Linked DNA regions of Homo sapiens. The protein of the gene in region 1 interacts with the protein of each later gene in a biochemical or structural test. Each region holds a gene or a part of one and is shown on either strand. Other genes may lie near its edges. The genes, in order: COL18A1 and SPARC.

The links.
Region 2: the proteins of COL18A1 (region 1) and SPARC form a complex in vitro, tested with the Homo sapiens proteins (one study listed by BioGRID).

The regions. Positions count from the first base shown.
Region 1 is NC_000021.9:45,461,669-45,473,647, reverse strand, and holds part of COL18A1 (collagen alpha-1(XVIII) chain isoform 4 preproprotein), read right to left. Parts: intron 5,407-11,979; coding exon 4,862-5,406; intron 1-4,861. UniProt on the Homo sapiens protein: Probably plays a major role in determining the retinal structure as well as in the closure of the neural tube.
Region 2 is NC_000005.10:151,667,065-151,679,043, forward strand, and holds part of SPARC (SPARC isoform 1 precursor), read right to left. Parts: intron 9,984-11,979; exon of another isoform or gene 9,881-9,983; intron 9,138-9,880; 5' UTR 9,125-9,137; coding exon 9,068-9,124; intron 7,611-9,067; coding exon 7,548-7,610; intron 6,153-7,547; coding exon 6,065-6,152; intron 4,631-6,064; coding exon 4,509-4,630; intron 2,721-4,508; coding exon 2,600-2,720; intron 537-2,599; coding exon 403-536; intron 1-402.

The DNA.
Region 1 (11,979 bases):
TTGGCTCATCTGAGGCAGCTGATGGGCCACCTGAGGGCTACGGGTTTAGAACCACAGCAGGTGTGGCTCGATCCAAGGCCTGGGAGGGCGGGCAGATTCGAGGGGCTGCAGGTCAAGTCCCCCAACCCCAAGTCCCGGGAGCTTTACGCAAGCACCAGGCGGCCTCATCTCCCGACTCGGACCAACCGAGGTGGCACCATGGCTTTGCTTTCTTTGAACTTCACCTTTTCATCAAAAACAAAACCCAGAAGCCAAGGACAGAAACGCCGCAGATGTAGGGGAGTTTCCTGGATCTCTGCGCCCATTCCGTCCGGACCCAATCTCACTCACTCACCCACCTACCCACCGCTCCCTCTGGCATCTTCAGTCCTGGGCTGAGTGCCAGGGTGCCTGACCCTGCCCTCTCGGGCCCTGGCGCGGCCGGCGGTGCCTGGTGAGATGCAGGCCGGGGATGCTGGGCAAGGACACAGGAGGGCGCAACGTCCTAAGCCTCAAGCGGGTAGCTTGCCTGGTGGGGAGAGGACGCTGGGAGGGGCTTTGACAGGAAAAGGGGCTGCCAGGTGGGGGCTGCGCACAGTACCAGGGGCTCCACTGGCCGCACTGCGGGTTCTGCATCCTGGCCTAGATTTCAGAGCCAAGCGAGGCCAGCTGGAGCCTGGGGCTCCCCATGCCGGCTGGGCCCCCAAAGCCCAGGCAGGTGGCTCAGGAGTGGGGCTGAGCCTGCAGGACGGGGTGTGAGTGCTGAGTGTGTGGGCACATGTGCGTGAGAGCATGCATCTGCATGGACACATGTGTGCAAACATGAGATCACGTATGCACGCGTGTGAGCTCATGCGTGGGGGGGTGTGGACCCTGTGGGCCCCCTGGGTTTCCCACAGGTTTCCCACAAAACGCACCAGCGGTTCTCAGCCTCACAGAGCGCACCAGCGGCTCTCAGCGTCACACTGCGGGGGAGGGCGTTGCCTACAGTGCCCCCAGGTCGGCCAGGGGCAGCACCGTGGGGTCCAGGGTCCACTGTCCACCAGGACCTACTGCGTGGGGGTGGGGCAGCAGCCCAGCAGCTGAGCCTTCACATTCAGGAGCCCCCAGGTCAGGCCCAGGGAGGAGCTGGGGTTGAATTCTAGAAAACTGCGCTTCGGCCGGGCGCAGTGGCTCACGCCTGTAATCCCAGCACTTTGGAAGGCCGAGGCGGGTGGATCACAAGGTCAGGAGATTGAGACCATGGGGAAACCCCGTCTCTACTAATAATACAAAAAATCAGCCTGGCCTGGTGGCGGGCGCCTGTAGTCCCAGCTACTTGGGAGGCTGAGGCAGGAGAATGGCGTGAACCCGGGAGGCAGAGCTTGCAGTGAGCCGCAATCGTGCCACTGCACTCCAGCCTGGGCGACAGAGCGAGACTCCGTCTCAAAAAAAAAACAAAAAAAAAAAACTGCGCTTCTCCACTGGGGCAGCCCGGGCGGGGGGTGCATCTTGGGTGGTCTTGGTGTCGGGGAGGGACTGGGCATTCCTGACACCCGATCCCCACACAGACATGCACTGTCCAGAGAGGCCCGTGAGGCCCTGACCCCCCCACAGGTGGCCACAGCGCTCTCCTGAGAGTGCCCCCGAGGGGCCGACGCCTCCTGCACGGGGCTACAGGGTGCCTGGGTGGGGGGCGACTACAGAGGGCAGAGAAGCTCTGAGCCCGTGGTGGCCGCTGGCTCCGGGGGTGGGGCAGGAGGCGCTAGTGCAAAAGCCACAGGCCCATTGTAAATATTTAAGGGACTTCGGACTGAAAGTTATGAAATCCGGAGACACCTGAAACAGAGCTCACAGGAATTCTGTGAGGGAAGAGCATGTAAAATGCTTCCCGACACGCTGCAGCCTCAGCGCCCTGGAAATCAGGACACAGCTGGAAATCAGGACACAGCTGGAAATCAGGACACAGCTGGAAATGACGTTCAAGGCAACGGCAGCAGCTGGGAGGGGTGCATGATTTCCCGGGAGACGACCACTGACAAACCTGACTCAAGAAAGTGAACCTGAAAAGACCAACAACGCCCAAGGACTCTTAGGACGAGGAACACAACCAATGCTCCGGAGGGCTCTGTTGGACCCAGCTGCGGCCGGGGGTCCCAGGCACCATCTGTGGCAGCGCCAGGGTCGATGCAGTCTTGTGGAGAGGCTGAGGAGGAGGAAGCCTCGGTTTCCTCCCTGCTCCCAAAGCTCTGTGCTTGTTTCTGCCAAAAATTATGAGTCACACAACTTGAATGTTTCTTTCCCAAGTATCTCAATTCAGAAGTCTGAGAAAATCTTGTGCTGAACAAGTCTGTCTTCTTTTCTACCACACAAGCATGCTTCTCCTCTCCCCAGCTGGAATCTCATCTAAGACCCAAAGAGAAAGTTCCTGACACCTGAGGCCTGCAGGGACCTGACACAGAGATCAACCAACACAGCCCTCAGCACACGGCCCATAGCGCGCCACCCACGCCCAGCAGCACACGGCCTGCTGCACGCCACCCACGCCCAGCAGCACAAGGCCCGTAGTGCGCCACCCAGGCCCAGCAGCACACGGCCCGTAGCGCGCCACCCAGGCCCAGCAGCACAAGGCCCGTAGCGCGCCACCCACACCCAGCAGCACAAGCCCGTAGCACGCCACCCAGGCCCAGCAGCACGAAGCCTGTAGCGCGCCACCCACGCCCAGCAGCACACGGCCTGCTGCACGCCACCCACGCCCAGCAGGGCCCCAGCCCAGGGCCAGACCCAGGGCCCTCTAGCTCCCTCCTGTTCCAGCTCTCTGACCTTCCAAGGTTTCACTGGGCTGTTGTAAGTCATGGTGTCTTCTCCAGGCCAGATTTAACCACATAAACACATCAAATCCCAGCTGGGTGCAGTGGCTCACGCCTGTAATCCCAGCACTTTGAGAGGCTTAGGCGGGTGGATCACCTGAGGTCGGGAGTTCGAGACCAGCCTGACCAATATGGTGAAACCCCGTCTCTACTAAAAATACAAAAATTAGCTAGGCATGGTGGCAGGTGCCTGTAATCCCAGCTACTTGGGAGGCTGAGGCAGAAGAATCGCATGAACCTGGGAGGCAGAGGTTGCAGTGAGCCGAGATCACCCCATTGCACTCCAGCCTGAGCAACAGAGCGAGATTCCATCTAAAAAAAAAAAAACAAAAAAAAAACCCACAAAAAAACCACACATCCAATCCCAATAGTCAAAAAAAAAAAAAAAAAAAAAGACAAGGTAAAAAGGCAAATGACATGGTAGAAATAAAATCTGCAGCATGCAAAACCAAAGAGAAGTTTCTTTTAAAGATAAGGAGTTTGTATAAATCACTGAGAGTTGGGCCCATTGAAAACCACAAAGAACATAAACCGGTCAGTCACAAAGGAAGAAATACAAACAGACAATAAACAAGTGACAAAATGAAAGTCTATCTTCACAGTCCAAGAAATGCAAAATTAAACACCCAGACCCCCTCTTCCTACACACGGGACTTCGCTGATGAGGAGGCCCTCACCGCAGGGCGGTGGCCCGGCTCTCCCTAGCACCATCGGGGCACAGCTGTGCACCCACGTACCGAGCTCTCGGCACTCAGCCGCTTTTCCTAACAGTGTTAAAGATGTACGGCACTTGTGGGCCACTTTATTCCACCAAGAAACGGCTGGGGACTCACACAACAAATTGCCTCTCACTGGAGGGGGTGACTCTGACTTCTTTCCCGGTAATCATGTTTGTGATCAAGAGGAAAACAAAGAGGCCCAGTTTGGTGTCAACGTCCTAGCGGCTCCTGAGCTCTGAGGGTTAAAAGTTCCTGCCAAAGGTGAAAAGTCAGCTTTCAGAACCCCCAGACACCAGGACTTAGAACAACTTCAAACAAACAGCCCTTGTCTGGGCAATAATTAACCTTCTGTCCCCTGCGGCCCGCCAGGGCAGGGGCGTCCAGCTGCAGGCCAGCTTGAATGCTAGAATTCAGGGACTTGTGAGACAGTGCCAGCTGAGGTCACCCACGTGGCTGTTCCCAGCCAAAGGTTCCCAGAAATGCAGGGGCTTTGGACACAGACCCCACATGGGTTTAGGGATCTGTCCACCCCCCCAACCCCAAGAAATGAAGGCCCACTGGAGGGACTTCCCGGAGACTCAGGTGGAGGCGGCCACGTGCGTTCACCGCTGGGGGACTCCCACCACGTGCTCCAAAGTGGAGTCTCACAGGCGTGGGTTGCTGCACCCTTTGTTAAAGGTGCTGACCTGCAGGGCCGCCCTGAGCCCCTGGTCCCAGCGGGTGTGCAGCTACCACAGGAGAACCCTGCTGGGATCAACACCCTGCTGCCGCCAGCTTTGGATCGTTCATCGTTTTCAACAAGGACCCCAGCTTTCATTCTGCATGGGGCCACGAGGCGTGTGGCTGGGCCTGGACTCGGTCCCCACTTACCCGACCGGCCGGTCAGAGGCCGGGAGCCCCACTTCACCACAGGGCTTGGCACAGGCCTGGGGGTGTCTCTGGGTCACGGGGTCACGGCTGGGGTGGATGTCTAGTTACAAAGTCGTTCAAAGAGGGCCCTCCTGGGCTGGGCCTCGGGGTCTCAGAGAAACCATGGAAGCCCAGGGCTACCCTTCCTGGGGGCGCAGGAGCCAGAGAGCCAAGAAAGTGAATGCCACCCCAGCCAGGCCGGCCAAGAACCCGGGAGGCCTGCGCCGGAGGCCAGGGCTGAGCAGCCAAGAACCCAGGAGGCCTGCGCTGGAGGCCCGGGCTGACCACAGCTGGGGTGGGGGCTCTCCTCTTCCGGCCACAGCTCCGTCCCTGTCCCAGTGGCCACCCCCACCCCACCCCATCCCAGCTGCTCCAGTCCCCCAGCGACGGCACAGTGGGGGTTACCTGGAACTTGTCAGGGTCCGCTCCCCCCGCCTGAGCCACGAAGAGCCCGGCGCCAGGCTCCAGCTCCAGGCCCCGTGAGGACCGAGCAAGCGGCATTCTCTGGAACTCCTCACAGTCCACGTAGAGGGCCACAAAGCCACCTGCCACACTGAGGGCTAAGTGTGTCCACTGGCCGACGAAGGCGGGGAGCCGGAAGCTGGCGGCTGTGTGGGTCTGGCCTGCACCTGGTTCTGTGTAGAGCAGGGAGATGTCCTGGTGCCCGTCCTGCACCCCAGAGAGCTTCACGCCCAGCAAGACCATGGCCTGCGCCGAGTCCGTGATGGCGAACAGCACCCCTGGGCCCTCTGTGGCTGGCCGGATGTGGAACAGCAGTGAGAAGTCACGGAAGAAGAGGCTGGGGAAGTGGTACCGGGCCACTTGGCCACTGTTGGCATCTGGCCCAAAGACGTAGGCCAGCCCGACGTCGGGGTCATCCGTCTGGGTGACCTGCTGGGGCGGGGGGTCCCCAAGGAGCTGCAGCAGCCCCACCTCCTCGCTGATGCGCTCTGCAAAAAGAAAGACAGCTGGTGAGGTGGCTGTGCAGGACGGAACCAGGGGCCACCGACGCGGCCTGGAGAGGCAGCCAGGCAGGGGCAGAAAGGAGAAACTGAGTCTGGGAGGGCTCTCCACGTGCCTGGCAGCCTGCCCTGATCCCCTGGGCTCAGCCACCCAACGGCCACCCTGGTTCACTCATTCCCAAACGACAGGCAGGCTCCATGCAGAAACCTGTGTGCAGGGGACATGGTGTCTGCAGGAGACATGGTGTCTGCACGGGACATGGTGTCCACAGGCCCCCTTCCATGCTTTGAGCAGGGATGGGCACAGCAGACATGGTGTCCACAGGCTTCCCCTTCCATGCTTTGAGCATTGATGGGCAGAGCCAGTGGGGAGAAGGGACCAGGGACTGGCCGGCACCCCCGCTGGGGCAAGGAGCTGTGAGGGGCTGGGGCTGGCAGCCTTCCCGCCCGGCCCTGTGCCCTGCCCGCCCACTCTGACCCTGCTGGAGCAGCCCAGGCCGGCACCCCAGCCTGGCCTCCACTGTGAAGCCACAGTTCCACCACAGGGAAGGAGGGAGGCTGACCCCACACCCCAGTGTTCTTCGAAGCCTCGGCTACGGGGCGTCGCCCAGAGTGGCTGCCTCAGCTGGGGTTCCACGTGGCATCTGAGGACACGGTGCGGGATTTCACCCAGCGCTGTCGGTCACCGGCTCACCTGCTGGGCCAGGTGCTTCATGTGGCAAGGACAAGCTGTATCTCCCCATCCCCCCCATGCTGATTCCCCTCGGGGCCACAATCACCCCTTGGAGGGGCTGCATGCCTGACGTACCTGCCAACGTGCCACAGTCTCCCCACCAGCCCCGCTGCTCCGTGCAAATGCCCCACAGCGCCGGGTGACTCACTCCACTCATTCCTGCCCAGGCGGAGCTTGACTTCACTTCGACTCAGTAGCCCAGGGTCAGAAGGAGCCCTGTCCATCCCTCGCCCAGGGAGCCCAAGCCAGGACGCAGCCCCGGTGCCCAGAGTTCTCACACCTCGTTTCCTGCCCACGGGAGGGGGGCAGCACCCACTCAAGGGCAGACCCTGCTCAGAGTGACTTCCCAGCACACCTGCCGTGCCAGGCAGAGCCCGGGCTTTGCAGCCACAGTCTGGGCCAGGGGCAGAGGGGTCCCAACGGGCTGAGCCTGGGCTCTGGGGGCCAGCGGTCACATCCCCCTCAGACAGAGGCCGCCGTCCACCCAGATGGCAGCTGTTACAATGATCGTCCATCCAGATGGCAGCTGTTACAATGATCCTTTTTCTCATAAGAAGTGCCTGGTCCCACATGTCCAAGCTGGGGCTGTGATAAGATCAGGAAACAGGACTCGGCCTGGGGGCCAGAGGCCGTGCCAGCCACCCAGCTGCCCCCGCGTTCACCTTGGAGAAACCTCCCACCACCCTTCCTAGAACATTCCGTCATTGGGAAAGCAAGATGCGGCAGCTGCCACCTTCCTGGGCTGGAGGGTACCAGCACGCTACACCGGCGGCCCCAGGGACCCCAGTGACAGCAACGCCCTTTCCAAAGCTGTCCCGTCTCCTCTCCACGAAGCTCCTGGGGGCTCCCTTCAGAAGCCAGCTTCCAAATGCCCGGCCCTAAGATGCTGGATGGGCAGAGAATGGCGCAGCCTCCACTCCCCGAGGTACAGGCCCAGCTGTCTCAGATGTCCTGGAATCAAACAGCAAATGCCTGAACCCCATTTCGAGAGCTCAGCCTTCCCGGGTGCGAGAGCTCAGCCTTCCCGGGTGCGAGAGCTCAACCTTCCTGGGTATGGTGGGGCGGCCCCTCCTGCTGGACCACCTCCCTTTGGATCAAGGTGCTTGCTTCTTTAAAGACCATTTCCCCCTCAGGAATCAGGCCAGCCAGAAGTGTGGATGGTTCTGGAGGCCTGTGTGTGTTAACAGAGGCCCCTTTAAATATGCCCAGGACAGACAGTGCAGCCAGCATCCTCCCCGCAGGAGAGCAGCGGGTACCTCTGGCTGGGACTCTCCGCTGTTCTCACACCAGTGTGGAACGTCCCCGCCCCTCCCCTTGGGTCCCTTATCTTAGGGGACCGGGGACGTCCATCCCTTCTGCAGTGGCAGCCTCTGAGCCAAAGCGCCCTCTCCCAGAAGCCGGACTTTCCAGGACCCTCACTCCCAGCCTCACCCTGACACGGCCTGACTGGGGGTCTCCTGTGAGTCCCATGCTCGGCTTTGTCTGACACCTCCCAGGACAAGACCGTCCCTTCTCCCCAAACTGGGCTCTCCACCAAGAGCCGCGTTCACCCACGGGGGAGTGGGCTCCAGACAGGCCAGTCCTCGAGGGCCACACCCAATGTCCTGCATCCCTCACGGCCACCGTGGCTCCGAAGAAAAGGGCAAACCCCTCAGAGACCCTCAGACACGTGCACTCCACGGACGCCCGCCTGTGCTCAGCATCAGGTGCTCCAGACACTCCCCAGAACCAGCCCAGCCTGACTCCTCGGGGCACAGGGCCTGGAGTCTCTGCTGCCCCTTTGAAGGGCTCCTGAGGACAAGATCCAAGGCTGCCTGGCCAGCCCCCCGCCCTCCAGCACAGCCCCCTCCAGTCCTGCAGAGCCAGGGCCGCTCGTGCCCACATGGAGTGCTCTCAGCCCACTTTCCAGGGAAAAGAGAAAATAACCACCTCAGTAAGACTCACACAGAGCTTCCGGAACCTGATCCAGAGCTTGAAGAGTGCGCCACCATCATCACTCCATCACACCATAGCACTTACGCAGTGAAGTGCCCGGGGGGACATCTTGGCATCAAAGAAAAACGGCCTCAGAACAAACACCTCCACCAAATCCCAAGGCTGCAGAGCCCCCACGGAAGGCTAAAAACAACCTAAGAAACGGGCCCCTGTCCCCGGGTGGAGACTTCCTGTTGACACTCGGACACGTTTACAACATTCAATCTCTCCACCGTCAGCGCTGACCCAAAACCCACGCCAGGCACAGGTGGGGTGGCTCAGCTGGTGTCTGATAAACAAAGGCGAGGCTGTGCGATGAACCCGCCAGTCGGGGCTGAGCAGGTGTCTGCAGGGTCATCTGTTATACAGAGAAGCAGAAATACCTGCGAGTGCTTCAGTCAGGAAGGGCTGAGGAAAAGACCAGAACAACACGAAGAGCAGAGCATCTCCCTGGAGTTATGGAGACTCCTGAGATGCAGGATAAAGGAAAGAGGAACTTTCAGACACAGGGCAATCCCATTAATGCAAAGTAAGACTCCCATGCATATGTACACATGTGCAGCCGTGCACATGGACAAACTGTGGTGGGCAGAGCCATGGCCCCAAGGATGTCCACGGCACAACAGCTGGAACCCACAAGCGTAATTTTACGTGGCAAGGGGATGCTGCAGCTGGGACTCAGGCTGTGGACCTGGAGATGGGAGATGATCCACTTCTAACCACACAAAGCCTTAAAATCGAAGGACAAAAGATGGCACCATGAGGACTTGTCCAACACCGTTGGCTTTGAAGGGGGAAGAAGGGGCTTTGAGCGAAGGGAAGCGGCAGCCTCTAGAGGCTGGAAAAGTCAAGAAAACAGATTCTCCTCCAGAGTCCCAGAGGGACCCAGCCCTGACAACACCTTGGTTTCAGCCCAGTGAACTGGTTTCAGACTCTGACCTCCAAAACTGAAAGGTAAGACAGCTGTGTTGGTTTAAGCCACTGAATTTGTGGCAATTTCTTACAGTCGCCAATAGGAAGCTACATACCTATATGCAAATTGGCACAAACCCATGGGGGGATGGACACGGTGCCCCCACCTGACCACTGCAGGTGGCCGTGGTTAGTGGGACTCAGGAGCTCTGTTCCACCCTCTCATGTGTGGCTGGAGTCTTGCCGAGGGCCTGCCTTATCTAAGAGGGTCTTTTTTGGCCCCAGGTTGGGCTGTTGACTTCTGGGACAGACTCCAGCCCACCAGGAAGATCTCATCCCCAAAATCCCATCCTGGGAAGAGGAAGAGATGAAAACGGGAGGCTTTGGAGCTCCCACCGAGGGACTACGGGATCCACCTCTGCCCCAGTGCCTGGGCACTGTGCTACTCCCGAGGGCTGGGCAACCTGGAAATGTGGTCACTCTGCCCCCGCAGATGTGTGTCTCTTCCTGAGAGCTAGAGGCTTCCATCATGGTTTGGCTCCAGCCCAGTTCTCAAAGCTCCAGCCTCTGAGCTCTGGACCCAGCCACAGTGCCCATAGGGAGTTTCTCCCCGCATTTGGCATAGCTGGGTGGCATCCAGGCTAGACACCTGCACATGATATAACAATGATGATGCCTCAAGACTTGATTTCTTTCCTTTTCTTTTTTTTTTTTAGATGGAGTTTCGCTCTTGTTGCCCAGGCTGGAGTACAGTGGTGCAATCTCAGCTCACCACAACCTCCACCTCCCAGGTTCAAGCAGTTCTCCTGCCTCAGCATCCCGAGTAGCTAGGATTACAGGCATGCACCACCATACCCAGCTAATTTTGTATTGTTAGTAGAGATGGGGTTTCTCCGTGTTGGTCAGGCTGGTCTCCAACTCCCGACCTCAGGCGATCCGCATGCCTCGGCATCCCAAAGTGCTGGGATTACAGACGTGAGCCACCATGCCTGGCCAAGACTTGATTTCTTGACAGAAAGAAACGTGTTTGAAAATGATTCTGGAGTACTCTGGTAAATGGCAGATGGAAAGCGCCAGGAATCCATCTCCCCAACTAATTAACAAGTGCATGGGCAGAATTTGTCTTAGAACTCTTTTGGAACTCTGGAGTCTACTGAAAGCTTGCAATGTCCACAGGAAGGCTTGGACGGTAACGGGTGGTTAATTTAGCTAAACCCCAGCTCTTGGCACAATAGCAGCCACACATCCATCCTCCACCCCCATTCCCATAGCAGGTGCCATGCACGAGTTCCTGGAGCAGCAGCCACACAGCTTGTGGGAAACAGGACGGCAAAAAGGACCCTGTCCTGCAGACATCGAGAACCTGTGCTCTGATCAGGTTGCCTGGGATCACAGATGTGCAGACAGGGAGGTGGGGCCATTGTTTTACACTCCCTCTGTTGTTGCAAGCTGCCCCTTCCAGCTGAAGTGACTTGAAGGGGATTTAGAGGGCTGGCACTGTTTTTTCTCCCTCATTTTTATCTTATTCCTCCTTTGGGAGCCAAACATGAAAGAACGGGACATTGAAAAACAGCAGCATGTAAGAGGAAAATTAGAAAGTGGCTGCACACACCCAGGGAAAGGGACAGGCTCAGAAAAGACCTGAGAAGACCTGAAGTTCACACCTAAGGGAGATTTCTGGCACAGACACAAAACATTTTTTAAAAAGTAACAAAAAAAAGCGAACGCTGGTGAAGGGCAAAATTCAAGAGCCACATTACTGAGTTCAAATGTTCACTTTTTAACACAAAATCACAAGGCACACAAAGCAATAAGAAAATATAGCACATTCAAAGGAGAAAAATAAATTAACAGAAGCTGTCTCTGCAAAAGACCTGATGGCAGATCTACTAGACAAAGACTTTAAAATGACTGTCTTAAAGATGCTCAAAGAACTACAGGAAGGTGTGGAGAAAGTCAAGAAAGTGATGTATGAACAACATGGAAATATCAATATAAAAACCTTGAAAGAAACCAGAAAGAAATTACAGAACTGAAAAGTACAATAGCTGAAATTGAAAACATCACTAGAGGAATCTGAAGGTGATTTGAGCAGACAAAAGAATAAATTAATGAGCTTGAAGATAAGATAATGGAAATTTTCAAAGACAAAAGATGAAAGAAAGGTGAAAAGAGCCTAAGGGGCTTGTGGCCACCATCAAGAGACAAGGAAGCATGCATGCCGTGGAAGCTGCAAACAGAAGAGAAAAAGAAAGGTGCAGAGAGACTATCTGAAGAAATAATGGCTGAAAGCTTCTCAAATTTGTTGGGAGACATGAATATAAACAGTTAAGAGCTCAGGGAACTCCAAGTAAGGTAAACTCAAAGAGACTCACACCAAGTTACATTATCATCAAACTTTCAAAAACAGAGAGAGAATCTGGAAAGCAGCAAGAGAAAAGCAACTGATCACATCCAAGGGCTTCTTAATAAGATTATCAGCAGATTTGTCACAGAAACTTTGGAAGCCAAAAGGCAGTGGACCAATATATTCAATGTACTAAAAGAAAAAAAAAACTGTTAACCAAGAGTCCTATATCCAGTAAAACTGTCCTTCAAAAGTGAGGGAGAAATTGGCATTCCCAGATAAACAAAAGCTAAGGGAGTTAATTGCCACTAGACCTGCCCTGCAGAAAATGGTCCAGGGAGTCCAGCAGGTAAAATGAAAGGACACTAGTCAATAACAGTAAGTCACATGAAGAAATGAAGATCTCAATAAAGGTAAATACATGGGCAATTATAAAAGCTGGTATTGCAACAACAGTTTGTAACTGCACTTTTTATGAATGAACCTGGAGGATATTAAACTAAAGGAAATAAGGCAGGCATAGAAGCAAATACTGCATGATCTCACATGTGGGATCTAAAAAAGTCACATTCATAGGAGCAGAGTAGAATGGTGG
Region 2 (11,979 bases), on another chromosome or scaffold:
ATGCAGCTTCCTGGGCCTTGCTTTCTAGAGACACTGTTTCAGTGGCCTGAGATGGGGCCAAGGAATCTGCATTTTATCAGCTTCTTGGGGTAGTTAATATGCTCATTAAAGCTTAAGATCCACAGACTCCAAAGGAAAAAGGAATAGGGCTGTTTGTGTCTCTTTTGTTTAACGTTAGGTTAAGCAAAGGGAGCAGGTCTCTGCTGCAGGACTTCTCAGAGCCTCTAAGATGTTAATGTGCACCACAGCCTCCAAAGGCAGGAAGAGAAGTACGTGTCCTGGTGCTCAGGGGTAAATGCACGCTCCGGAGCAGGATGCCGCCCTGCAGCTGGGGGCCCAGTTCTAGGAATGGGACTGGATCTTCACCAGCACGGGGCCAGCAAGGCCAGAGAGACCACTTACCCGCAGCTTCTGCTTCTCAGTCAGAAGGTTGTTGTCCTCATCCCTCTCATACAGGGTGACCAGGACGTTCTTGAGCCAGTCCCGCATGCGCAGGGGGAATTCGGTCAGCTCAGAGTCCAGGCAAGGGGGGATGTCTAGGTTCCAAACACAAGGGCGGTCAGCACAGACCCTGCCTGGGCCGTGCTCCCCACCCCAGGCCCCCACCCACCCACATACCACCTGCATTGGTGGCCTTGGCACAGTGGCTCAACCTCTCCAGGCCACAGTTTCTTCACAGGACAATGAGCAGAGGAGATTATGTGTGGGAAGAATGCCCTAGAAATGCATTGTGCAAAGGCATGGCTGCTGCTTTCCTCAGCCTAATCTGCTCTGCTCAGGGAAATGGATGGCTCCTGCACCTTACTGGGTGCTGGGCTTTGGGTGTGATCCTAGCTGAGACTGAGCCCATGTTGTTCACGTCAACCACTGGCAGGTGTTTGAAGCTGGGAGGCTGAGGGATCACATCTATCCACAGGCCCAGCTTGGCAGGGAGTGGGGAGTAGAGGACTCAGGAATGTGTAACCACCAGAACCTTCTTAGAAATGATTCCAACCTGGTCTTTGGAACTTAGAATCCCAAATGTTGGACCTGAAGATTTCATCCAAGTCCACACTTTTCTTTTCCTTTTCTTTTCTTTTTTCTTTTTTTCTTCTTTTTTTTTTTTTTAGACAGGGTCTCACTCTGTTGCCCAGGCTGGAGTGCAGTGGCACAATCACGGCTCACTGCAGCCTCAGCCTCCTGGACTCAACCAATCCTCCCTCCTCAGCCTCCTGAGTAGCTGGGACTACAGGCACATGCCACCATACCCAGCTAATTTTTGTATATTTTCCAGAGACAAGGTTTTGCCACGTTGCCCAGACTGGTCTCGAACTCCTGAGCTCAAGTGATCCTCCCTACTCGGCCTCCCAAAGTGCTGGGATTACAGGCGTGAGCCACCGCGCCTGACCCAGGTTCACACTTTGTACTGGACTTATTAGAGGTCAGCATGGAGAGAAGGGACTTGCTCAAGGCCACAATGTCAGAGCCTCATCCAGCATCCAGGGCAGTGTGGTCACCTGGGGGCTTAGGGGTCTGTTCTTCCCTCATCATTGAACCAGGGAAAGTCCCCTCTGTGAGGCTACCTTCATCATCAGCTGGGGTCTGGGAGAGAATATCTGGTGATAAAAACCTTAGGAGTTGAAGTGAGTGGGCAACATGCCTCAGGGAAAGCAAAGCCACTTCATAAAGACTCCTTAAGACAGGCTCTCTAGTCTTGCTGCCCAGGGACTTCCTACCCATGCTTCTTCCCCCAACCCTCCTTTTCTACTCTGTACCTTCTCAATTTCATACCTGGGGTCCCACGAGGAGAACTTTGTTTCCCACCCCCTACATACTTTTCTGCACCCTGTACACCTGAGGTAGGTGAGTGGCTCTCCTCATTGCCATCGGGTGCCAGAATACACAAGACCCACAGTGTGGATGTTGCCTTGGAGGGGGAGCAGGTGTGGTCTTGGGGGTCTCCCATGATAGGGAGGATACTGAACAAGGCACTTGGCCCCACTGAGTTTGCAGCTGGGGTCACTAACCAAAGATCAGACCACACCCTGGCATCCCTCCCCAGACAACTGACTCCCAGGTTTCCAGAAGAGGGTGCTTATCCTCTCTCTTCGGAGGGCAGATAGGAATGTAATGGAGTAAAAGGGTGAAGATATGACAGTACCAAGTAACAGGGCCCAAAGCAAACCGACAGGCATGCCCTTATTTTAAAGCATTCAAAATCAGATATTTTCAAAATATTTTGTAGGCCCAGGTCAAACATCATTTTTGCTTTACAGTGTTGAAGCAAGAAAGATTCAACTTAGCCTGAGAGAAGAAATTCTTCCTCATTAGAGAAATGAAATGCAGTTGTCTCAGATGCTAGTGAGAGACTCCAGAAATCTTCCCTGATGTTGACCTTCCATAATCGCTCAGTCCTTCCCCAGAAAGTGCCCTGAACTCAGAGTTGAGAGGAGCCAACTCATAGACAATTACCTCATTTTATAAATGGGGATGCCGAGACTCAGAAAGGGAGAGAGATTTGCCCAAGATCACCCAGCATGGGGGTGGCAGAGACAGCATCAGTGCCAGCTCAGAGCTCTCTCCCCAAGACAGGAGTCTGGAAGGGCCCAAGGACACTCACATTTGCAAGGCCCGATGTAGTCCAGGTGGAGCTTGTGGCCCTTCTTGGTGCCCTCCAGGGTGCACTTTGTGGCAAAGAAGTGGCAGGAAGAGTCGAAGGTCTTGTTGTCATTGCTGCACACCTGTTGGCAAAGCACAGAGTACCCCCTCCTTCATTCCCAAAGCCCTTCGCTGATACCAATATCCTTGTCCATTTCAGAGATGGGGACACTGAGGGTTAAGCAAGGAATGTCATTAGCCTGAGGTCATATAGTGAGTTAGTGATAGGGCTGGGCCACAAATCCACTTTTTGGGTTCCCAGGTCAATGCTCAGCCCAGGCTGAGAGCCATCGATGGTCTCTGAGCAGAGGCATGACTGAGTCAGTTCTGAGATATAGGGAAAAAAATCCTGGAAGATATTTGAAGAGAAAGTTAAAGACAGGAATGGGAGAGAAACAAGAGTGTTCAAAGAAGAGTTAACATAGCAGGCCTGGAATTGTTATCCTTAGAAAAGGCCTGCTTGTAAGGTCAGCCTGTGGCTGGTGTCTGGGAACTTAGCTGGGAAACAGTTCTCTGCACTGTTGTAAATCTTTCCCTAACTGATAAGAGTGGCTCGCTATGCCTGGACTGTTTGTACAAACAATCTGGTTTATGCTGAACATCTGCTTTCCTTCTGGAAGTGTGAAATTCTGGTGCATGCTAGGCAAAGGGTACCTATGTGACCAGCCTCCAATTAAAACTTTGGGTGCTGAGTCTCTAATGAACTTCCCTGGAAAGAAACATCACTCACATGTGGCTGCCTCTTTGTAGCTGGGGTAAGAATGCACTCTGATGACCCCTCTTGGGAGTCAGTCAGTCTCCACCCAGATTCCTCCAGACTCTGCTAGTGTCTTTTTCCCTTACGATCCAGCTGTATATCCTGAATATGTCGCTGTACTAAACCTTAGGTGTGAGTACAACTGTATGCTGAGCCAATGGAGTCCTAGTCGATCTCTGAACATAGGGGTGGCCAAGCAGAGATGTTGAGGGCTGGACATGCAGTGGCCGTAAGTAGCTGTGTTAGGAGGAGGGGAGCCTGTGTTGAACATCCTGTCCGTACTTATTTAGTATAGCTTATATGTCACTGCAGAGGGAGAACTGATGGGCACTGGTGACTGGGCACTGGGAGTGGGGAGGGGTGAGGAGGAGGAAAATGTTAACAATGATATTAAAATGTGGAGCCCAGAGGCTATGTAGTCTCTGGAGAAACTGAAGATGGAGAAGCCAGATGGGAGGCTGTAGGAATAGTGCTGGCCCTAGATTTGCTGCCATGAGCTAGACTGCCACTAGCATGATGGTAGGCAGGAGCAGGCACTCAAAAAATATTTACTTGGACGGATGGATGGATCCTATTGGAGAGAAGGGACATATTTGAGAGATAATTTAAAATTAAGTAGCATTTATTGGATACTTGTTATGTACCAAACATTTCTGACACATCTCCACAACAGATCTATGAGTTAAGGACTATTTTTATCCTCTCTTTGGATGTGAGAAAACTGAGACCTGAAAAGGTTCGGCAACTTAGCTTAAATCTCACACCTAATAAGTGATGGAGATGAGGTTTGAAGTCAACCTTCAGTTTGGCCCCAGAACCCGTATTTTTGGACCTGATTCTTTGCTGATGCTGTTATACTCTTAGCTCTAAGAGTCTGGCACAGGGCTTGGAACCTGATGGTGCTGTTTAAAGTCTTGCTGGTTGCTGAAAAGATCCAGTGCCAGGCAGAGCACTCTGACTCATCCCCTCTTTCCTGCTGGGACTAGGTCTAGCAAGGGGACTTCTGAGACTGGCACTGCCCCATAGAACCACCAAGCCAACAGTTTCCTGAGCAGACATCCTGTATTCCGAAGTGCCCAATCCCTTCCCCCTGCCCCTGTCTCTCAGCCCTCACCTTCTCAAACTCGCCAATGGGGGCTGGGCAGCTGGTGGGGTCCTGGCACACGCACATGGGGGTGTTGTTCTCATCCAGCTCGCACACCTTGCCGTGTTTGCAGTGGTGGTTCTGGCAGGGATCTGTAGGGCAGAAAGACAAGGGAGTTAGCATCACCTGGACTAGCACATCCACCCCCATCCTACCTGGACAGATCTCAGGGCTGACAGTCCTTGACTGTGGCCCCCACTCTGGGCTTTGGACAGCCCTGAGTCCTGCCTGCTCTTGCACTGAGCCTCACAGTCAACATTTAGGGCAGCAGCTGGTTCAGCCTGGGGATTAGAGGTTTAGCTTGAGATAGAGGTCAGGCACTTCTGGGGGGCTGGAGGCTCAGTCTGGGACCCAGAAACACTAGATACCATATGGCTTTCCTGAAGATTGAAGCAACCATTGTGTTCCTGGGTCTCCATTGAACAATCACAGTGGGGCATTTCTGGATTCCAGAATAAGCTTTCTAGAATGGCTTAGAAAGTCAGCTGTTGACACTGAGCCAGGGAGCTGAGGCCCAACAAAACAGACTTAAGTGGCAGTAAAGGAAAAGGGAGAAGAGCCTCAAAGTCCATGCTGGACAATAGAGCCTGGTAAACACCGGATGAGGTGGGCGTGGAGGCGGGAAGGAACATGACTCAGTAGATGTCCCTCTGTTCAACAGAAACCCTGTGCCCAGCTAGATCAAATACCATTAGCTATCCCCTCAGGATGAGAGCTTAATGTGGCCTTTTCCTCGCAATGCTTTATTTTGGGTGTTTTAATAATCCTTTAGCGGATGCCTACTCAGCTTGTCTGAAAACTTCCCGGCAGCCCTGGGACAAGGGTCTGCCATCTTCATCAGCCCCATATGAGAGATGAGAAACTGAGGCTCCGAGATGCTAAGCAAGCTGGCGTGGAGAAGCCTAGGTTCAAAGCTTGGTTGGACCGCTTCCAAAGTCCTTGCTCTTAACCCCTTGAGTACAAATGCTTTGCACCTAGGGCTGGAGCCAGAGCCCCTAGGTCATTTCTCTCCCAGGGCACTAACGCATGGATAGCATGGTACGGATTATGTCAGGTTGCATTTCCTCAGGACCTCGTTTCCTTGGACTGTGTGAAATAGAATGAGCTTATGAGTGTGCAAGTTCCTGATCTCTTCTCTCAGTTCTACTTCTCTGTGGGGCACGGGCTGATACAGAAGCAATGGGAGATTTCGGTGACCAGATGTGATCAGCGACCTCCGTGGGACTGGGAAACTCAGCTTTGGACTCAGGGCAAAGAGCTATGAGGGGAGAAGCCCATTTCCAGCTGGAGAACTCTCCTTCCTACCACACACATGGATGGCCTGGAAACCGATCTTGCCCAGATCCCAGGGGACTGAGTGCCACAGTTTCCCACTTGTTAAGTCAAAGCCGTGTTTCCTTCATAGCCCACTGAGGACCCCACCCTGCATTTCTGCTGGAAGGAGCCTCATGTAGGCTGTCCTCGTGCCCCAGGCCCAGGCAGCCAAGGGCAGCTTGGATGTGCCAAGTTACAGGGAAGGGACATACTTTCCGCCACCACCTCCTCTTCGGTTTCCTCTGCACCATCATCAAATTCTCCTACTTCCACCTGGACAGGATTAGCTCCCACAGATACCTGGAATTGAGGGAGAAGAATGGGTGAAATGGCCCCACTCCCATCCCAGACCCATAAGGGTAGCTGAAGGGTTCCAGGTCACAGAAAGCACAAACGCAGGGTTGGGAATCCAGATTTAATCTATAGGCCTGCTGTGTTTTGCAGTATGCCTGGGATTCTGTTGAGCTGCCTTAGAGGTCACCAGGGGTGTTAGGGAAAGAGAGTGTGAAAGGAAAATATACCTTGGACCCCAAAATCACTAAGCTAAGGGGAAAAGTCAAGCTGAGAACTGCATAGGACAAACCTGCCTCCTATTCTATGCAGTCATCCCTCTGAGGCTCACCTGAGACAAACGCTTATCTGATTGCTTCCTCTCCCCTATTGTTTATGTAAAAATGCAGATTCACTGAGCCAGATTAAATTGTGTATTCAGGGGAAGGCTGATCAAGGACTCAAAGGAATGCAACCATTTGTCTCTTATCTACTTCTAACCTGGAAGCCCTCACTTCTCAAGTTGTCTTGCCTTAGCGAACTCAACCAATGCACAATTTAGACATGTTGATTGAAGTCTCGTGTCTCCCTAAAATGTATGAAAGCAAACTGTACTCCCGACCACCTTGGACACATGTCTCAGAACTTCCTGAGGCTGTGTCACAGGCACATTCTTAACCTTGGCAAAGTAAACTTTCTAAATTGACTGAGATCTATGTTCACAAGAGGGTGTCAAGCCTCCACCCCTGCCAGCCACACCCAAGCATCTCCCCTTTCCTCTGTGTGTGTGTGTGTGTGTGTGTGTGTGTGTGTGTGTGTGTGCTTGTTTGTTTGTTTGTTTTTGAGATGGAGTCTCATGCTGTCGCCCAGGGTAGAGTACAGTGGCGAGATCTTGGCTAACTGCAACCTCCACCTCCCGGGTTCAAGCGATTCTCCTACCTCAGCCTCCCGAGTAGCTGGGATTACAGGCACCCGCCACCACGCCCAGCTAATTTTTTGTATTTTTAGTAGAGACAGGGTTTCACCATGTTGGCCACACTGGTCTTGAACTCCTGACCTCGTGAATTGCCTGCCTCGGCCTCCCAAAGGATTACAGGGATTACAGGCATGAGCCACCGCACCCGGCCTCCTCTGTTTTACGTTTGCAAAAACTGTGGGTAATCATGGAAGAACAACTGTTGCATAGCTTAAAAAACAAAAATTTTAAGGTCCTGGTCCCCAAACGTAGGGTTCCGTTGAAGGTTTGGGAAGCATTCAGGAGTGTGTCAGGATGTGGGATATACTCAGGGTTTGCATCTATGCTATGTGTGTACAGGGAGACGAATGCCCCACTCTAGCATTGAGACCCACAGCATCCGCCCTAATTTCTCAGGGCACAGATACAGGTAGAGAGGGGCTAAGGGGCTGCGGTCACTGCCCACATACCTCAGTCACCTCTGCCACAGTTTCTTCCACCACCTCTGTCTCATCAGGCAGGGCTTCTTGCTGCTGTTGGAAAGAGAAAGTAGCGTTCAGAGGGGTCAGGAATAAGGCCAGCTTCACCTCCAAAGTGCCTGTGGCCTCGGATACAGGCTAGGGGAGCTTGGAGAGCAGCTTACTGGAGATCCCCAAAGTTGTGCCTCATGGACTGCCATGGTGAGGGACAGAACAAAGAAGAAGCCAGTCATGTGAGCACCGTGGAACACTCAAGCAGCTCCCATTTTATATATTTTATATCCTAGGTGTCTACCTAAGATTTAGCTTGGAAAAGTATTTCTGCTGCTTTGAATTCTTATAAAGTCTGAAAATCACTGATCCAGACCAATTCTTTCACTTTACAGATAGGAAAATTGACATCCAGAGGGGATGACACTGTGAATTTTAACAGATGTCATCATCTTCCTCACAGTGTGATATTATTAGTAGTATTATTAGGCAATTTTTCTTGCCATTTCAACTTGGAGTAGGAGGAAGCAAGAAAACACACAACTTTGAGGCCCTTAGCTGGCTGGAGCTGCTTCAAAACTTAATGCCAACTTTGAGAAACTTTTGCCTCCATCTACCAGCCTGATCAAGATTGCCAGGGTCTGCCATCACTCCCACTTCTTAGTAAACAGAGGATGAGGGGATCACAGGTTGAAAGAAATTGCACTTTTTGCCTGCCCTGTTTCTTCCTCCTCTCCTTGTGAAGGCTTCCAGATGAGCTGTGGATAACTACTCCTGTCCCTGCATGCAATGCTTCGAGGAACTGTCTGTCAATCAAGGGGCCCCACTCTCACCTGGCCAAGAAGCTGGCTCAGGACCCAAGCTCAGCCAGATTGGCTCTCATTTTTTGAATTTATAAAAACCTTCTTGGCACATTCTCTCAAGATGTGAAAATTGCTGGAGTTGATTCATTCAGACAGCAATATCTCAGAGACTGTCCATTAGTTCTTAACTCCCAAAGCCTAGAGCTGCCCTTTTCCAGTCCTCCCCAAGGCCTTTAATATTATAATCTACCTCTGTATCTTCCCCTCCTTCCCCAATTTAGTCAGATTGAACTGTTGCTTACAACCAAACAACCCTCACTGTTTCAGAAGCCAACACATTCCTCTCTCTATAGCTTGAATCTCTTCTAATACCACCCCTACCAGAAATCCCCCACATCCTGTCTCCTGCCTGCTTGAATTCCTCATATGACAAAGAGGTCATTTCCTTCTAAAGCAATCCTAGTTCATTGCTGGGAGGCTCTGACTACTAAGAAGTTTATCTAACATTACATGGAACTCTCTCTTCTCTGATACCTCCACCCAATGGTCCTCATCCCAGTTTTTATCCCGAGCTTCCTAACTTAAGAAAAAAAAAAGACCACTAACTTGAAATGGGGAAGTCCCTGTTCCCTTTCAGCATCCAGGGCTGGCAGGCTCAGAACCCCTGGTGCTAGCGGTAGGAATGAAAACAAGAAGACATGATATTTAGGTACTTACAGGGGCTGCCAAGGCCCTCCCGGCCAGGCAAAGGAGAAAGAAGATCCAGGCCCTCATGGTGCTGGGAACCCTATGGGGAGGAGAGATTGAGAGTTCAGTGAGGGTGAGACTTCCTTATGGAGATTTCCTTCTGAATTCCTGATATGTGCAAGATAATGTTAGATGGTACAAGTTAAATGATAGTGAAAAACATGAGGAGGTTGGTTCCATTTAATATTCTTTCAATTCTGCTTATATGAGAAGAAAGTCTCAGTTTGGTGCCAAGATGTCTTAAACACCTCCTTTATACTCATCTATCTCCTTTTTTAACAAAAAGAGAATAAGCCTCCAGCTCAGAGCTTCCACAGGAAGTTATATCCAGCTGGAACTGAATCAAGTTGTTTTGTTTTTTTTATGTGTTTGTTTTTACAGTTTCCTTCTATTTATGACAAAGGTACACAGAGTTTTTTCCATTTATGGTAGTGATATAAAATCTGCTTTTGTAATACATTTATTAAAGTTTTTGCAAAGTGATTCAACTAAGGTGATGGGCTAACTAGTTAAGTTTGGGCAATGCCAAACCAGATCATCTTCAAGGTCCCTTCAATCCCTGATATTCTAAAATTATTTTTTTCCCTAAACCCAATCTCTCCTCTTCCTCCTCTGTCGCCTCCTCCCCCTCCTTCCTACTCCCTCTGCAATGGGAGAAGTTAATAGGCAGGAACTTCTTGCCAGTTTGGGACAATGAGATCCACATTCTAAAACAAAGAACAATAGTCTTGGAATGTAACCCATGGAAACTTGAGGGTGGCCACATTTTTCTCCATTCTACCCAGAAGAGACAGCACTTCTTTAGGTCCTGTACGGAAACCATCCAGATGCTTCCATGTGTTGCAGAGGGGATGTTAGCTGAGATCTAGAAAATACCTCTGTTCTGGTAACTGTTAAGGCCTCATTCTCTAAATGCCAAGCTCTAGACTCTAATACTCTCATGACTATAAGGGATTTTGGAGCAGTATCTCCTCTGAGGATTCAAAACTAAAATGCTATTCCTAACAGAGGCTCTGTGGTGGAGACATTTCATTTCTTGCACTAACTAAATGGCTTTTCATTCTCAAGTGACTTTAGAAAGTTCTTTCTTTTACTGATCTAAATGTGCCTCCCTCAAACTTTCTGATCTGTCTACCCCATCTCCCCTGCAGCCACAAAGAACAAACCTGCTCTCTCTACCCACAAATAACCTTCCATCAGGAGCAACAGTGGCCATGTCTTCCCTCTTTCTTCTCCCAAAACCTCCCTGTCAGGCTCATCATCCCTTATTTCTTCCAAGACTTCTCAACTGACCAAATGGTGGTGGGAGGTAACCCGGCATCATGGAGAAAAATACTCAGCTTGAAATTAAATGCCAGGGGGTCTTGTTCTACCACAGTAGTATCAAGTCTTTTGGTCTCTCTAGACCTTGGTTCCCCCATCTATCAATTGAAATGGGTAGACTAGGTGAACTTTGAAGTGGCAGCCTCGGTCCTTAAAATGCTCTTAAGACACCCCAAGCACATTCTGGTCTTGACACATATGGTCTCCTCTGGGATCATATGTCTTCACTTGTACTATAGCATTTGGGAAGCAGAAACAGGCAGAGGAAGAGCCCACTTCATAATGGTCCTTTCTTGGGCTTAAAGAGACACAAAACCTCACCCCCTATTGCACAGAGTGAATGAAGTAAAACTAACAGAAATGTAAAGGACCTGGGGGTTTGGTATTGCTTCACAATAACCCCAACTTCCAGAGGAGTCTAGTCTTCCCTTTTGAGGCAGCTTGTGGAATGTTCCTCCCCTCACACAGTTGTTCACTTGTTCCCCAGGCTTAAGTGGAAAAATCTCCCTTCTTGCTTCCCCTTTTGGAAGACGCAAGATAAATAACTCCTGCATGTGGCTTGGGACAAATGGAACAGAAAAGAAAACATCAAGGAAGGACTTGTCTGAGATAGTTTGAGGTTGAAGGATCAAAGTGAAATAGCAGCTAAAACAAAACAAAACAAAAAGTTACCCTGTCTGAGCTATAATGACAGGGAAGTCATGTTATTGAAGAAATAGCCCAGCTAGGACTGGAAATGTAGTAAGCTTCAGATTAGAAAGACAGGAAGACAGACATTTCCCTGAGTCTGCGTCCTTCATATGAGCAGAGTAACCGCGCTCCCCTCTGTGACCAGGGGAAGGTTTCGCTGGGCGGCTCTTCTGTCTGTCCTGCCTCCTCATCTTCCTGAATTCCTTTTCCAGCTGCACACTCACCCTCCCTGCCACCCCCATCCCTGCTGTTGCAGCCAGAAGAGAAAAATAACTCTAAGTCTTATAGTGCTGCTTCATAGTTTCTAAAGCACTGTCACATAACACTGTCTCCTAGAGCCTTCTGACAATGCTGGGAAGTAGGCAGACAGGCATGGAAGGGTTCTTAGTCCCACTGTCCTAATGGGGAATCTGAGGTTGAGAGGGAGGAAGCACTTGTCCAAAGTCATGCAACAATTCAGGCCCTCTCCAAATAGGCAAGCGTTCTCACTCATGGAGTTGGGGTGAGCCTAATAGGAATTACGCTCAGACAAGTGGGAGTGGGGGAGAAATGCAGAGAGACTGTTAAGAACAGAACGCAAAATCTTGGAATACACCTTAAAAGTTTTGGAAGAAAACTGTAAACACAAACACAAAATCTGGGTCCTGCCCAGCACCCGGTGCTACACCACCAGTCCAAGAGCACTTTTCCCCCAGATGATGAGATGGGAGGGAAGGGAAGCGGCTGAACTATTCCAGATGCACAGCCATCTCCCTGCCTCCCCACGAGATACCTCTCTGAGGCTCTCTAAACTACCACTGACCAAAGAGCCCTGTGTCCATCCTGCAAAGCTAATGGAGTATAACAGTCACCCCAGCAAGGTCAGAACA